Linked DNA regions of Homo sapiens: region 1 is linked to region 2. Evidence: fine-mapped expression QTL. Tissue or cell type: monocytes. Region 2 holds a variant in brackets; the other region holds the start of a gene. All regions are shown on one strand. Distances are from middle to middle.

Evidence for each region. PIP is the estimated chance that this variant, and not a neighbour inherited with it, causes the effect.
Region 1: it holds the start of IL4R, and the variant in region 2 is fine-mapped to the expression of IL4R in monocytes (Quach 2016, PIP 0.95).

Annotation. Positions count from the first base shown.
Region 1 is chr16:27,309,150-27,317,242 of GRCh38, reverse strand. IL4R (interleukin 4 receptor) reads right to left here and starts at 3,269. Exons shown (of 11, transcript NM_000418.4): 1 at 3,223-3,269. RefSeq lists silencers at 2,529-2,578, 3,019-3,228, 3,249-3,548 and enhancers at 3,326-4,056, 4,879-6,078.
Region 2 is chr16:27,243,605-27,251,708 of GRCh38, reverse strand. All of the region lies in intron 2 of NSMCE1 (NSE1 component of SMC5/6 complex), which reads left to right. Among named protein-coding and RNA genes, the nearest start is that of NSMCE1-DT, 21 kb to the left of the region's middle. The variant C/A (reference allele first, on the strand shown) is at 4,326.

The DNA.
Region 1 (8,093 bases), 66 kb before region 2:
AAAGCTCAAAGGAGGCAACAGTAAAGATTTATTCATTTAGGCCAGGCACGTTTGCTCGCATCTATAAATCCAACACTTTAGGAGGCTGAGGCAGGAGGACTGCTTGAGACCAGCAGTTCAAGACTAGCCTAGGCAACATAGCAAGATCCTGTCTCTAAAAATATAAAAACAATTAGCCAGCCGTGGTGGCACACACCTGTAGTCCCAGCTACTCAGGAGGCTGAGGTGGAAGGATTACTTGAACCCAGGTATTGGATGCTACAGTGAGCTATGATTGTGCCACTGTGCTCCAGCCTGGGAAATAGAGAGAGACCATGGCTCTAAAAAAAAAAAAAAGGTATTCATTTAACAAATACATAGTTTGTACTACATACCAGGTACTGTTTTGTATGCTTGACATATATTAACTCATTTAGTCATCACTACAATGGCATAGTCACTATAATCTCATAAATGCAGAAACTGAGGCTCTGGGAAGTCAGTTACACAGTAAGCAGCAAAGCCAGCATTTGCACTGGGTGATCTGGCTCAAGTCCATACTGTCACTCCCCAGCTATACGTTTTGACAGGTAACAACAGACATATACATTGATTGTGGACCCACTGGGTGTTGGACATTGTGTGAAGTAGCTTATAAAACATGTCATCAACCCTCAAGAAAGTTCACTTTTACAAATGTGAGGAAGAACAGTACTTAGGCGGCTTCTGTCCTGGCCTCACTCCCAGGTACCAGTGAGGGCAGTCGAGAGGTGGGGCATCTAATCCCAAACGCTCTCCTCCATCGTCCCAGATGGGGTGGGTGGAAGAGGGCAGGGAGATGGGGGAGGTAGAAAAGGTTCTCTCTTCTCATGTATTTATGTATTTGTTTATTTTGAGACAGAGTCTCGCTCTGTCACCCAGGCTACAGTGCAGTGGCACAATCATAGTTCACTGCAGCCTTGACCACCTGGGCTCAAGCCATCCTCCCACCTCAGCCTCCCAAATAGCTGGGGCTAGAGGCACCTGCTACCACGCCTGGCTAAGTTTTTAAATTTTTTTTGTAGGAACAGGATCTCACTATGTTGCCCAGGCTGGTCTCAAACTCCTGGGTTCAAGCGATCCTCTCTCAGCCTCCCAAAGTGCTGGGATTACAGGTGTGAGTCACTGCGCCCAGCTTGTCACTTCTTTGACAATTCATTTCAGCTCCTTTTTGAACTGGGAGCATTAGAAAACTGAACACCCCCACCCTTGCCCTGGGCATTTTGCAACCGGGATTGTATTGTATTAAACATATCAGTCATTGAGTCACTTCCTAGCATTTGGAAACCCTTAGGTTATCTCGGACCTGCCGGTAACTGCATGTGTTGTAAATGGGGTGAGTGACTGCAGGTTTTCCTCCCTGCTGCCTCCCCAGCGTCTCCCTCCAGATTCAGATCCAGAGGCCCAGGGTGGGGCCCAGGAATCTGCATTGTTGCTTTTACAACTCAAGCCAAGGTGAATACACTGGCCCAAGTTCCTTGGCATGGCATTCAAGGCTTTCCACAATGCAGCCCAGCCCAACTTTCCATCCATCTCTGGCTTCTGCTTACTCCCTAGGTTCTGTACACAGTGCCCTTTCACACTTCCCAGCCTCCGCCCACTCTGTGCCTCCCTTTACCTCCCATCCTCTACCTGCCAGACTCCCCTGCTCTACTCACAAGGCTAGCTCAGGGTCCCTGGGTGCTGGGAAGCCTGGCCCAGTGACCTTTGAAGAGCTGATCCCCTCTGGCTTGTGGTCCTGCAGCCGCTGGTGCATCCGCACCCTCCCAGCCCTCACGTCTGTCTTCCTGCAGAGGGGGTGCTCCTTGAGGCAAGCACCAGTGCCCAGAACACCACCCAGGGCCTCGCAGGAGCTGAATGAGTGCTAGTGAGTGAATGAGTGGCTTAGCAGGTCACCTCCCATTCATGGGCTGGGCTAGCCGAGTTCTAAGAAACCCCTGCAGGACCCTGGAATGCCCTAATGTGCAGGACACCCTGGCCAAACCTACACCTGAGCCTGTTTCCCCATTGGACTTTGGGATTTTGATAAAGGCACTGAGGTCCCAGCAAATGCCTTGGGCTCCTCATAGGCTACTGGGGGCAGGGAAGTGCAGTGGGTCATGCCTCCCAGAGGGCTGGGGAAGGGGAGAGACTAGAACTGGAGCAGGGTTAGCGCTGGCCTGGGGGCATTCCTTGAACCCCAGAAGCAGACAAACTAGTGGTCCCCTATCTTGCTTAAGTCTAAGAAATCCAGATTTTGTTTAAAAAAAAAATCAGGGCTCAGTGGCTCACACCTGTCATCCCAGCATTTTGGGAGGCCGAGGTGGGAGGATCACTTGAGGCCAGCCTGGACAACATAGTGAGACACCATCTTTATAAAATAAATTTTTAAAAATAAAATAAAGATCAGATTCCTGGGTTTACTGAATCTGAATCTCAGGGCAAGGACCTGGGAATCTGCATTTTAAGCAAATCTCCCGGAGATTCTGGTTATTGTGGGGGCTCCTCAAACGTGATTGAGAGATGGAGAGCAGCTGGCTCTGGCGTGGGATTGCCTGGGCTCTAGTCCTGCTGCCCCACGGACTCCCAAGTGGGCGGCACCTTAGGGCAAGTTACTAAAGCGGCTGGGGTCTTGGTGACCTCATCTGTACAATGTCCATGACGCACAGCACCGGCCACAGAGAAGTTAGTGGGAGGTTTCACTTGGCATCCTTTCAGTAAAACAAGTCCCAGTCAATGATCGCGATTATTGGGTCCATCTGATATTCGGAGGCGGAGACCGCCCCGATTCACTGACCTACTACTCAAATTTACAGTTCTCAGAACTTTCCCCACCCTTTCTCTCTCCGAAGTCCTCACTGACTTCCTGAGCGCAGGGCTGGGCGCCACTGCCCGGAGAAGAGGGGCTGCGTGGCCTCCGACAGCCTAACCCCAAGCCCCCCACCCCCGCAGGCCGTCCCGGCGGAGGTCTCACTGCCAGCACCGGCTTTGGGGAGCGCTGGGTGTCCACGTACCCCGGGCCTCGCGCCTCCGCTGCCGTTCGGCGGCAAGGACGGAACCGGGCGCTGCTCCGCGCGCACCGAGAGTCGCGGGCTCGGGCCCCGCTCGGAGTCGGGGTGGTCCCCGTGGTCCCCGCCGGCGGCCGAGCCCTTCCCGAACGCCCTCAGCCGGCGTGCCCGGGCGATACCTTCGCAACCCGATCCGCGCGCGGGCCCCGGATCCTACCTGCGCGCCCCTGCTCCATTCGCCGTCCGGGCGCCCAAGCGGGAAGTGGGGGACCCCTGGGTGGCCCTTCCCTGGCCCGCGCCGCGCGGGGCTTTCCTGGGCGCGGAGACCCAGCCCGCCCCGGCTTCCTGCTCCCCGCCCCGGCGCCCGGCAGATTTGCATGCGCCGCCCCGCCCGGCGCGCCCGGCCCGGGTCCCGGCCACCTCGCGCCCCTGTCGCTGTCCCCGCCGCCGCCGCCGGACAGTCCGAGCCGCCGTCCTCTCCTGGGGGCGACCCCAGCACCTCGCTGGGTGTCTTGCCGCGCGCTTCCTCCCACGCCGTAGCCCGAGGTCACGCCCAGCGGAGAACTCTGCAGTGGATCCCCTTGGTCTCGGAATAAAACGCCCACGCCGACCAGGCCTCCAGGACCTGCTCCTGCCTGGCCTCCGCGGCCTCTTTTGCGCCGGGGCAGTTGCGTTTGGTGGGGGAGGGCTGGGCGACTGGAATCCTCCTCCCCTTCCTAACAGCCCGGCTTCCAAGTGAGAGTGGTTGCACATTCTTCAATAAATGTTTACCCAACTCCTACTCCAGCCACATTTGGATAGTAAAACAGCCCTTCAATCAGTAACTAGTACAATCTGTCGGGCACTGCAAATGTTAACTCGTTCAATCCTGGCAACTACCCTATAAGGGAGTGATACTATCACCGGTTTTACAAATCAGGAAACTGAGGCACAGAGTCCTTAAGAAATTCAAAATGGGTTGGGCAAAGTGGCTCATGCCTGTAATCCCAGCACTTTGGGAAGCTGAGGCGGGAGGATCACTTGAACCCCATAGTTCGAGACCAGCCTGGGCAACCCTGTTAGCGAGACCCCTATCTACAAAAATTGACATTTATAAAATTTTAAAAAAGAAAAGAAAGAAACTCAGAATCACTCTGCAGGTAAGCAGGAGCAGGGGTGGAGCTGGGATTCGAACACAGGCCCCATAGACCATTAACGTCTGGACACCATAAGAACCCGGATGCAGCCAGATGACTGGGGGGAAAACACTCAACAAAGTATTTCAGGTCAGGAGGGCCCAAGAAGAAAGTAGGGACCTCTTAGACCAGTGGGGCAGGTGGTCTGGAAGAGGCTTTTTGAGTAGAGGCCATTTGAGCTGAGACTCTGAAGAGCCTATGGGGGAAGACTTGTGTAGGGAGAGGGAAGAGCTAGTGCAAAGGCCCTGTGGGAACCAGCTCAGCCTGCAGGAGGAATTGCTGAAGGCCGGCATGGCTGTGGAGCCCTGAGTGAGGAAAGAGCGGAGACAGGGGAGGTGGGAGATATTTGGACTCACACTGGGCAGTGCTGAGAACCCAGAGAGTAATTTGACCCCCTGCTGCCCTCAAGGAGCTCTCAGTTTGAGGGTGGAAGCCAAGGACTGCCCAATGGGATCAAGTGCTGTGGTGGAGGGTGAGGGTTGGCTTCCCAGGGCAGGGGCCACTGCACGTCAATCATTCTTTTTTTTTTTTTGAAGATGGGGTCTCATTCCATTGCCTAGGCTGGAGTGCAGTGGGTGATCTCAGCTCACTGCAACCTCCACTTCCTGAGTTCAAGCAATTCTCCTGCCTCAGCCTCCTGAGTAGCTGGAATTACAAGCGTGCACCACCACGTCCGGCTCATTTTTGTATTTTTAGTAGACATGAGGTTTCACTATGTTGGCCAGGCTGGTATCAAACTCCTGACCTCAGGTGATCTGCCTGCCTCTGCCTCCCGAAGTGCTGGGATTACAGGTGTGAGCCACCACGCCTGGCCCATATGTCAATCATTCTTTCATGTACTTGGTCTGTCTTGGTCCTACTGTGTGTCTAACCTTGTGACAAGCGCTGATGACGCAGACCTGAAGACATGAAACAGACACAATCCCTGCCCTCTGAGACCTTACAACCAAGTGAGCAAGACAGCCACCAACCCACCCCCGGAAGTGACAGTAAAGATAAGTCAGTTCCCTGGGGTCAGGGATGGCTTCCTGGAGGAGGTGACCTCTGACCAGTGCCTGAATCAATGCAGAAAAACATGCAGGTGGAAGGGACAGCATGAGCAAATACCTGGAGGTGGCGTGGGAGTGTGGAAAAACTCCCATCCTTCGGCATCTGTTTGTGGATGCCTCCATATGCCAAGTCGTGAGCTGGGGGCTAGGGAGAGCAAGAAATAGATCCAGCCCCTGCTTCCTAGCCCTGAGGACCTGGTTGGGGCACTGACAAGTGAGCAGACGTAAGCAATTGAAGTGAACAGATGTAAGCAATTGAGTGTAATAAACCCCGTACTGGGGGCAGCCCAGGCAGACGCTAAGAGGACTAGGGAGAGAAGGCCACAGGAAGGGCTTTCCTGGAAGCTTGGGTTTCAGGAGGAATAGGAATCCTCTGGATTAGGTGTGACTTCCACTCCCGTCCACACTCATACTCCCTCACACTCATTACTCACACATCCGCACACCCACACGGTTGATGCTTCATCCCAGGCAGTTCAGCCCTGCAAGCTGCCTTTGTCCTGTCTGTGTTTCTGAGTTTGTGCCCCATGTCATCGGGAGACGACAGCAAAAGTCTACCTTTGAAGTCCTTTGGGAATGTATGGCTTGGGCTATATCCCCTCCTGGACTCCCAAACTGGGCTCCCATCCTGTTTTCCCAGTCAAGTCATCCTTCGTCGGTTTCCTCGCTTGCCTCTAGACTGCCGGCATTGGCATACCAACTCTGCTACGTATTGACTATGTGACTTTGGGCAAAGTAGATCATCCTCCCTGTGCTTCAGTTTCCCCATCTGTAAAATGGGGATAATAATAGACCCACCTCATAGGGCTATGAAATGGTGAAATGGCAAGGTACGTATCGCAGTGCCTAGAATAGTGCCTGGCGTGGATTAGGCATTCAAAATGTCAATTGCTGTTCTTATCAGGATGAAAATGAGAAAGAAGCAAAGTCGAAGCCTGTTGCCTTGGTCTGTTGCTTGGTTGTGAAATGGAGATGAACGTGGCATTGAGAAGACAGGCAAAGAAAGCACAGCTGTGGTCAGAGGCTAAGACATTCAGGAAATCTGGGGGAAGAGACTTCGGGAATTCTTTGTACTCTTCTCCCAACTTTCCCGCCAGTCTGAAATTATGTCAAATTACAAAGTTAAAGAAAACAGGGCATTGTTCTCGGGTGCAAGAGAGATAATAAATGTCTTCTTGCATACAGTCCCACTGTTCAAGTTCCTGCCCAAGATGCCCAGACTTTATCTGTGACTGCTCCGTCAGTCCTGGGAGCAGGTCCAAAGGCACCAAGATAGTAAAACCTCTGTTCCCCCATCTAGGGGTTCCCAAGTCTTGCCTCAGTATAAGCTCAATCCTCATTATATCCTAACACGCTTACTTGTTTCCAAGCCTTTCGGTCTTTAAAACTAATAGAGTTTATTTTTTAGAACCATTGTAGATTATGGAAAAATTGAGCCGATAGTACTGAGAGTTCCCATACATCCCTCTCCCCCATGCAAAATTTCCTCTTTTATCAACATCTTGCATTAGTGTGTAGTGCCTTCCTTATAATGCTGATACATTATTATAAACTAAAGTCCATAGCATACATTGTTTCACTGTTTCTCGGGGTTTTGTTTTGTTTTGTTTTGTTTTGTGTTTGTTTGCTTGTTTGGAAACAAGGTCTCACTCTGTTGCCCAGGCTGGAGCAGCCTGGAACTCCTGGACTCAGGGGATCCTCCTGCTTCTGCCTTCTGAGTAGCTTGGGCTACAAGAACATGCCACCACACTAGGCTTTTTTTTTTTTATACTTTTAGAGACAGTCTTGCTACATTGCCCAAGCTGGTCTCAGACTCCTAAGCTGAAGTTATCCTTCCATCTCAGCCTCCTAAAGTGCTGGGATTACAAGCATGAGCCACTGTGCCTAACCTCTGCAGCACAGTTCTGAGTCTTTTTTTTTTCTTTGAGACAGAGTCTTGTTCTGTCACCCAGGCTGGGGTACAGTGGCGTGATCTCAACTCACTGCAACCTGTGCCTCCCAGGTTCAAGCGATTCTCACTCCTCAGCCTTCCAAGTAGCTGGGACTACAGGTGCACGCCTGGCTAATTTTTGTATTTTTAGTAGAGACGGAGTTTCCCCATACTGGCCAAGCTGGTTTTGAACTCCTGACCTCAAGTGATCCACCAGCCTCGGCCTCCCAAAGTGTTGGGATTACAGGCATGAGCCAATGCACCCAGCCAAGTTCTGGGTCTTAACAATGTATAATGCCATGGATCCACACATGTAGCAACAAAAAGAATAGTTTCCCAGCCTGGGCAACATAGCAAGACCCGGTCTCTACCAAAAAACACAAACAAACAACAACAACAAAAAACAGGCCAGGCATGGTGGTGCACTGTAGTCCCAGCTACTCAGAGGCTGAGGCAGGAGGATCCCTTGAGCCCAGGAGTTCGAGGCTGCAGTGAACTATGATCATGCCACTGCACTCCAGCCTGGGCAACAGAATGAGACCCTGTCTCTAAAAAAAAAAAGAAAAAAATAAAGAATAGTTTTACTTCCCTAAAAATCCCCAATTCTCTACCTATTCTTCCTGGATTCTGGAAACCACTGATTTTTTTACTGTCTCCATAGTTTTGCCTTTTTCAGAATGTCACGTAATTGAAATCAGAAAGTATGTAGTCTCTTAATACTGACTTCTTTTACTTAGCAATATGCTTTTCAGGTTCCTCAATGTCTTTTCCAGGCTTCACACCTCATTTCTTTTGTGGCTGAATAGTGCCCTATTGTATGGATGTACCACAGTTTATCCATTCTACCTATTGAAAGACATCTTTGTTGCTTCCAATTTTTGGCAATTATGAATAAAGCTGCTATCAACACTCATGTGCAAGTTTTTGGGTGGAC
Region 2 (8,104 bases):
AAACATTTGAGGAAGAACTCACACCATTTCTACCCAAACTCTTCTGTAAAATTGAAGAGAATATGTTACAACTAATTCTATGAGACCTGCATGATTCTGATACCATAACCAGACAAAGACATTGCGAGGAAAGAAAACCCCAAACAAGACTCCTCATGAGCGTAGACGTTAACGTGCTAAACCCAACTGTGGCAAATCTAATCTAACAGTGTTTACAAAGGATGGTACGACATAACCAAGTAGGGTTTATCCTGATTTTGCAGGGTTGATTTAGTATTAATATTTGAAAATCAGTGTAATTCACCATATTAAGCTAAAAAAGAAAAATCTTGTGTTTATCTCAATAGGTACAGAAAAAGTATTTGACAAAATCTCATGTTTGCCCTGGTGTGATGTAGCAGAAAGTTTTTTATAGGAAGCTAAGGGATCCTAAGTAGCAGGGGATAAATAGGATAAATAGACTTAGAACACAAGTGAGGAGTCTGAACTCTACAGAGTTTTATATATATATATATATTTATATATATATATATATATATATATATATATTTTAAATAATTAAAATTAAGGCTGGGCGCGGTAGCTCACGCCTGTAATCCCAGCACTTTGGGAGGCTGAGGTGGGCAGATCACCTGAGGTCGGGAGTTCGAGACTAGCCTGACCAACATGGAGAAACCCCGTCTCTACTAAAAATACAAAATTAGCTGGGCACGGTGGTGCATGCCTGTAATCCCAGCTGCTCGGGAGGCCGAGGCAGGAGAATTGCTTGAATCCGGGAGGCAGAGGTTGCAGTGAGCTGGTATCGTGCATTGCACCCCAGCCTGGGCAACAAGAGCAAAACTCCATCTCAAAAAAAAAAAAAAAACAGTTAAAATTAAATAAATTTCATTTATTTTATTATTTTATTTTATTTTTGAGAGAGAGTCTCAAAAAAGCCTCCCAGGCTGGAGTGCAGTGGTGCCATCTCAGCTCGCTACAACCTCCGCCTCCTGGGTTTAAGCAGTTCTCCTGCCTCCGCCTCCCGAGTAGCTGGGATTACAGGCACGTGCCACCACGCCCGACGAATTTTTGTTATTTTTAGTAGAGGTGGGGTTTCACCGTGTTGGCCAGGCTGGTCTTGAACTCCTGGCCTCAAGTGATCTCCCTGGCTTGGCTTCCCAAAGTGCTGGGATTACAGGCATGAGCCACCGCGCCTGGCCCTCTACACAGAGTTTAAAAAAAAAAAAAAATCCAACAGCTATTCCTGATTAAAAAACAAAAACAAAAACAATACCCTCAGCAAAGTGAGAAAAGAAGGGAACTTCCTTAACCTGATAAAGGGGATCTCTGTAAAACCTACAGCTAACATCACTCTTAATGGTGAAAGACTGAATACTTTTCCCTAATCTCAGGAGAAAGACAAGAATGTCTGTTCTCACCACTTTTGTTCTAGCTAGTGTACTGAGGCGAGAAAAAGAAACAAAAGGTAGCTGGATTAGAAAGGACGACACAGTAAAACTGTCAGTTCACAGACAACATGATCATCTGTGTAGAAAATCTGATGGAATCTACAAAAAATCTTCTGGAACTAATAAGTGAGTTTAGTAAAGTTGTAGGATACAAAATCAATATCCAAATACCAATTGTTTCTCTATATGCTGGCAATGGATAATCAGAAATGGTAATGTAAAAATAGCACCATTTATAATAACATTAAAAATAAGAAATGCTTAGGAATAGATCTGGCAAAAATGTGTTAGACCCGTACACTGAAAACTACAAAACATTGTTGAGAGAAGTCAAAGGAGATTTAAATAAGTGGAAAGACATAGCATGTTCATGGGCTGGGAAATTCAGTATTGTTAAGGTATCAATTCTCCCCAAATTGATCTATAGATTCAAAGAAATCCCAGTTAGATCCCAGCAAGGCTTTTTATAAAAATTAACAAGCTGATTCTGAAATTCACATGGAAATGTAAAGGACCTAGAAGAGCCAAAACTATTTTGAAAAAGACAAACTTGAGGAACCCTGCCTGATTTCAAGACTTACTGTATGGCTGTCCTATCAAGACAGTGTGGTAGTCATGTCATGATGGACAAACAGATGAAGGGAAAAAAATAAGAGAGCTAGATAACAGACCCACACATAGGTGGACAGCTGATTTTTGACAGAAGTGCAAAGGTAATTTAGTGGAAATAGTCTTTTCCAAAATGAGTGCTGGAATAATTGGATATCCATAATCAAAAAATGAACTGCAAGCCATACTTTGCACCAAATACAAAAATTATCTCAAAATGAGTCATAGACCTAAATGTAAAACCTGAAACTATAAAACTTCCAGAAGAAAACATAGGAGAAAACCTCTGTGACCTATGATTAGTCCAAGATTTCTTGGCTCCAAAAGCATGCTCCATAAGAGAATGAATCGATAAATTGAACTTCACAATTAAAAATTTACATTAAAAAATACTCTTTAGAGACTGAAAAGACAAGCAAAATACTAAGAGAAAATATTTGCAAATAATGTATTTAATGAATGACTTGTATTCAGAATATATAGAGAATTCTCAAAGCTCAAAAATAAGAAAACATTCAACCCGGCTGGGCGTGGTGGCTCACACCTGTAATCCCAGCACTCTGGGAGGCTGAAGCCGGTGGATTGCTTGAGCTCAGGAGTTTGAGGCCAGCCTGGGCAACATGACAAAACTCCGTCTCTACAAAAAAATACAAAAATTAGTCAGGCATGGTGGCATGCACCTGTAGTTTCAGCTACTTGGGAGGCTGATGTGGGAGGGTTGCTTGAGCCTGGGAGGCAGAGGTTGGAGTGAGCTGAGATTGTGCCACTGCACTTCAGCTTGGGTGACAGAGGGAGATCCTGTCTCAAAAAAAGAAAAGGAAAAGGAAAAACATACAACCCAGTAAGAAGTGTGCAAAATATTTGAACACTGCAAATCGGTTGTACAGATGGCAGATGAGCACATGAAAAGATGCTCAACATCATTAGACATTTAAAAAATGCAGGCCAGGCATGGTGGCTCACACCTGTAATCCCAGCAGTTTGGGAGGCCGAGGTGGGTGGATCACGAGGTCAGGAGATTGAGATCATCCTGACCAACAGGGTGAAACCCTGTGTCTACTAAAAATACAAAAATTAGCCAGGCTTGGTGGCGGGTGCCTGTAGTCCCAGCTACTTGGGAGGCTGAGGCAGGAGAATTGCTTGAACCCGGGAGGCGGAGGTTGCAGTGAGCTGAGATCACGCCACTGCACTCCAGCCTGGGGAGAGAGCAACACTCTGTCTCAAAAAAAAAAAAAAAAAAAAAAAGCAAACTAAAACCGCAGTGAGCTACCACTGCATGTGTATTAAAATGGCTAAAATGAAGAAGACTCTGCAAGGCAAGTATTGGTGAGAACATGGAGGAACTGGAACTCTAATATACTACTGTTGGGAATGTAAAATGGGACAGCCATTTAGGAAAACAGTGTGGCAATTTCCTATGATTCAGCCATTCCTCTCTTAGGCATTTATTCAAGAGATATGAAGCTATATGCCCGCACAAAGGCTTGTGCAGAGATAGAGTATCTTTATTTGTAATGGCCCCAAATGTGAACACCTAGTTGTCCATTTGCAGTTGAACAGATGAACAGACTGTGATAAATCCATACTACTTAGCAATAAAAGTAAGTGAGCTCTTCCTACATGCTAGAATATGAATGAATCAGAATGATTTTGCTGAGTGGAAGAAGTGAGGTGAAAGAGTATAAAGCAATTTTGTTTTGTTTTGTTTTTTGTTTTTTTTTTTTTGAGACAGAGTCTTGCTCTGTCGCCCAGGCTGGATTGCAATGGCGCAATCTCCGCTCACTGCAACCTCCACCTCCCAGGTTCAAGCGATTCTCCTCCCTCAGCCTCCTGAGTAGCTGGGACTACAGGTGTGTGCCACCACGCCCGGCTAATTTTTTTGTATTTCTGGTAGAGATGGGGTTTCACTGTGTTAGCCAGGATGATATTGATCCCCTCACCTCGTGATCTGCCCACCTCGGCCTCCCAAAGTGCTGGGATTACAGGTGTGAGCCACTGTGCCCGGCCATATGAAGGCATTTATGTGAAATTCTAGACAATGCGTACCTGACTGTAATGACAGGATGGTTCAGTGGTTGCATGGGGATGGCATAGAGGAGGGATAGGATGGGTAGGTGAGAGGGATTACAAAGAGGCACAAGGAAACTTGGTGAGTGTATTAGTCCGTTCTCGCGCTGCTAATAAAGACATACCCAAAACTGGGTAATTTATAAAGGGAAGAAGTTTAATTGACTCACCGTTCAGCATGGCTGGGGAGGCCTCAGGAAA[C/A]TTACAGTCATGGTGGAAGGGGAAGCAAACACATCCTTCTTCACATGGTGGCAGGCAGGAAGGAGAAGTGCTGAGCAAAAGGGGAAAAGACCCTTATAAAACTGTCAGATCTCTTGAGAACTCACTCACTGTCACAAGAATAGCATGAGGGTAACTGCCCCCATGATTCAATTCCCTCCCACCAGGCCCCTCCCATGACATGTTTGGATTATGGGAACTACAATTCAAGATGAGATTTGGGTGGACACAGCCAAACCATATTGGGGGTGATGGAAATATGTCTTTGCAATCCAATATGTATTTTACACTTAGTTTAGACTGGCCCCATTTTAAGTGCTCAGTAGCCACATGTGCTATTTGTAGAATGTTCCTCAGCTTAGGTTTGTCTGGAGCTTCCTCCTAATTAGATCTAGGAGTTTTAACTTTGCAGATATAATATGGAAGCGGTGTTGTGTTCTCTCTGCATCCTACCAGGTCGGCTACGGTGTTGATGGGGTCAGCCAGGTTTCTCCAGTGTACAATTACTCTTTTTCTATGTGATTAATAAGTATATTGCAGGGAGGTACTTAGAGACAAGGTAAATATCTCATTCTTGGCCCGGTGCAGTAGCTGATGCCTGTAATCCCAGCAGTTTGGGAGGCTGCAGCAGGTGGATCACTCAAGCTCAGGAGTTTGAGACAAACCTGGGCAACATGGCGAAACACTGTATCTACATAAAATAAAAAAATTAGTCGGGCCTGGTGGCATGAGCCTGTAATCACAGGTACTCAGAGGCTGAGGTGGGAGGATCCCTTGAACCCGGGAGGCAGAGGTGGCAGTGAGCCAAGATCATGCCAGTGCACTCCAGCTGGGTGACAGAGCAAGACCCTGTTCCAAAAAATAATCCCACTCTTCATCCCATTTTTACCTATTAGTTTTAAAATACTTCCCTGGATTCATTCTTATTTTATGGTTGCCAGACTGCTGTGAGGTACAGTTCTATACTCTCCAGCACTAACATTTTAGAACTAATTACACTGTATTATCATGTTTAATGTTAATTTTTATGAGGTTTTAAATTATCTATTGTTTTAAGGACAAGTTAGGTAAAAATGTCTGAAGTTTTAGATTTAAAAATTTAGGTTTAGAAATACTTCAGTGAGCAGAGTAAATAATTTGATGTTTGGGCAAAAACCAGGTCGCTGAAATACATGTGTCAAAACTAGATGAGTGAGTCAAGTATCATGGTCACGTTGGGGTTTGATAAAGATTTTCTGTTTTTGTCAACTCTCTTATCTGCCTTCATCCCGGGTTTGTTTCCAGCGTGCTGATTGACATGCCTGTATCTGCTTCGTCGTCTCACGCTGGACTCCTGTACATCATCAGGCTACGTGCGTTGATGGTGAATCAGCGATGTTGACATTTTGGTTTAGTATTCCATCCTGTCTGTAGTCCTATTTGTAAGCACCTTCTCTTTCCAAGGAAGACTCAGTCATAATTAGAAGCTGGCTCCAAGTACATTTTCCTTCTGTTTTTAGTGATTTCATTTATAGATCTCCCCTTTGGCAATGATGAACAGTTAATCAGCATACCACTGTCAGAGCCGGTCTGCCTTTCAGTTAATCAAGGGAGATAAAGTCTGGGATCATAACTGAAAAGTGGCAAAAAATGAGTATGAAAAGTAACATCTAACGTGTGACTCGATGAATTTCTCAACATACAGAATTGACAGCCGGCAGTTATTAAGTGCTTAGACAGGAATCTTTGGGTTCAAGAAGCTCTGTAACCACAAGGAAATTGATGTTGCTTTTGTGTCTCTGGCTCTTGCTGGCCTAGATGTGTCCAAGTCCTGCCCGTTCTTCATGTCTGCAGCCTGGGAGTCCAGGCTGGACTGCTCCACCGCAGCCCTTTCAGGCCAGCATGGAGTTGCTGAGCCAGGATTTCTGTGCGCTTCACGCTCCCCTAAGCACACACATCATGTGTTTGGGAATGCATTTTGAACTGGATCCCAGACATGAGAGAGGTTATGTGCTGATGCGTGGAAGTACTGGGAATGGATTCAGTGGGATTACCACAGACCCCGCTGGCTGGAACAGGGAAGCCATTTTTCAAAGGCATGAATTCAAGTCCTGTTTCTTCCAGGGTCTGGGGAAAGTTCTTTTACTTTTCTGAGTCTCAGCTTTCTGTGTTATAAGGGACATCACATTCATTTCATGGAAGAGTCTTGAGGATTAAGCAAGGGAATGTATGTTCAGCGCCTGGCACAGAGTGCTTGTGGGCACACGTTCACTTCATGCTCACCACTGCCTCTTCCTTCCTTTTCTGCCCCTTAACTTGCCATCTAATCCCAATTGCTGGGGGTGAGTGGTGGGGGGTGACTATCAGAAGACCCATGGTGCTGGTATGATAGTGTGATAGGAATTATTTTATAGACCACAGGGCTGAATTCTCTTGGGGTTTTCCTAGAAAATTCACAAAGCATGGTCACCACTTGTACCACACATCTTCCTCGGTTCGTGGACGGATACGTCTTGAGTGTCAGCTGAATGTTGGGCTGCTGTGGTGAATAGGATGAGCAGATCCCAGCCTTCAGGGAGCTGGCATTCTGCTTAGAAAGAGAAAGACCGTAACTCGGAGGCAGACAGTGTGGTAGTTTGGGGTGCTAAGTGCTGGAAGGAAGCATTGAGTCCCTCGGTAGAGCGGGCCTGGGGTGTGGCTTTGGCCAGGGCCTCTGTTCAAACCTTTCTGTGGAGCTGCCATATGTGGCGATGCTCGGGTGATGAGGGGCAGCCCTGCAGAGATATGCGGGAGACGCTTTCCAAAGGGAAGGCAGCATGAGTGAAGGGGCTGAGATGGGGAGGAGCTTGGTGTGGGGGAGTGGGGGACAGAAAGGCAGGTGGCAACATAGGTCAGGGGATGGAGCCCCAGACATCTTCCAGGCTGAGTGCTGGGACCTGGCTCCACTCAGCTGCATGTGGAGGACAGACAGATGGAGAAGGCTAGAGGGGACACCGGGAGAATGTTGGAGGCTGTTGTCTGCTTCAGACTGTAGTGAGTGGGGAAAGGGAAGGGCGTGCGCCTGTCAGAGCGACTGCAGTCAGCCGCCTTCATACCAGCCACTTCTTAGCCCCTGCTTAGCCCAGAATGGGCACCAAATTGAGTCCTCCACGGATAAAGTGTGAACATAAACGGAGACCAGGCAGCAGAACAGGCAGCAGCTGCTTATTTAGAGCTTGCTCCAGCAAGAGAGGCAGCCTCCACTTGGGTTTAGCAGAGACTCCAGGAAGGCAGAGGAGTGGGGAGGCTTCAGGTGTGCCTGAGTGGAGGCTGCTGGCCAGGGCAAGGTGGAGACAGCTAACCAGAAGTGGGGCGTCCTATGTGATTGGTTAGAAGTACATATGTGGCTTTCTCTGGTTTGTTGTCTCTTAGAAACAGGGATAAAAATTAGGGAAGCTGGCAAGCATGGTGGTACATGCCTGTAGTCCCAGCTACTTGGGAGGCTGAGGCGGGAGGAACACTTGAGGCTAGGAGTTTGAGACCAGCCTGGGCAACATTGCGAGACCTCAGGGTCTGCAGAAGAAACAAAGTTAGCTGAGCGTAGTGGCTCGTGCTTGTAGTCCCAGCTACTGGGGAGACTGAGGTGGGGGGATCACTTGAGCCCAGGAGTTCAAGGCTATAGTGAGCTATGATTGCACCACTGCTCTCCAGCCTAGATGACAGAGCGAGACCCCATCTCTAAAATATAAAATAAAATCAATTAGGGTAGTATCAGTTACTGATCCTGCCTTGGTCCTTTTGGG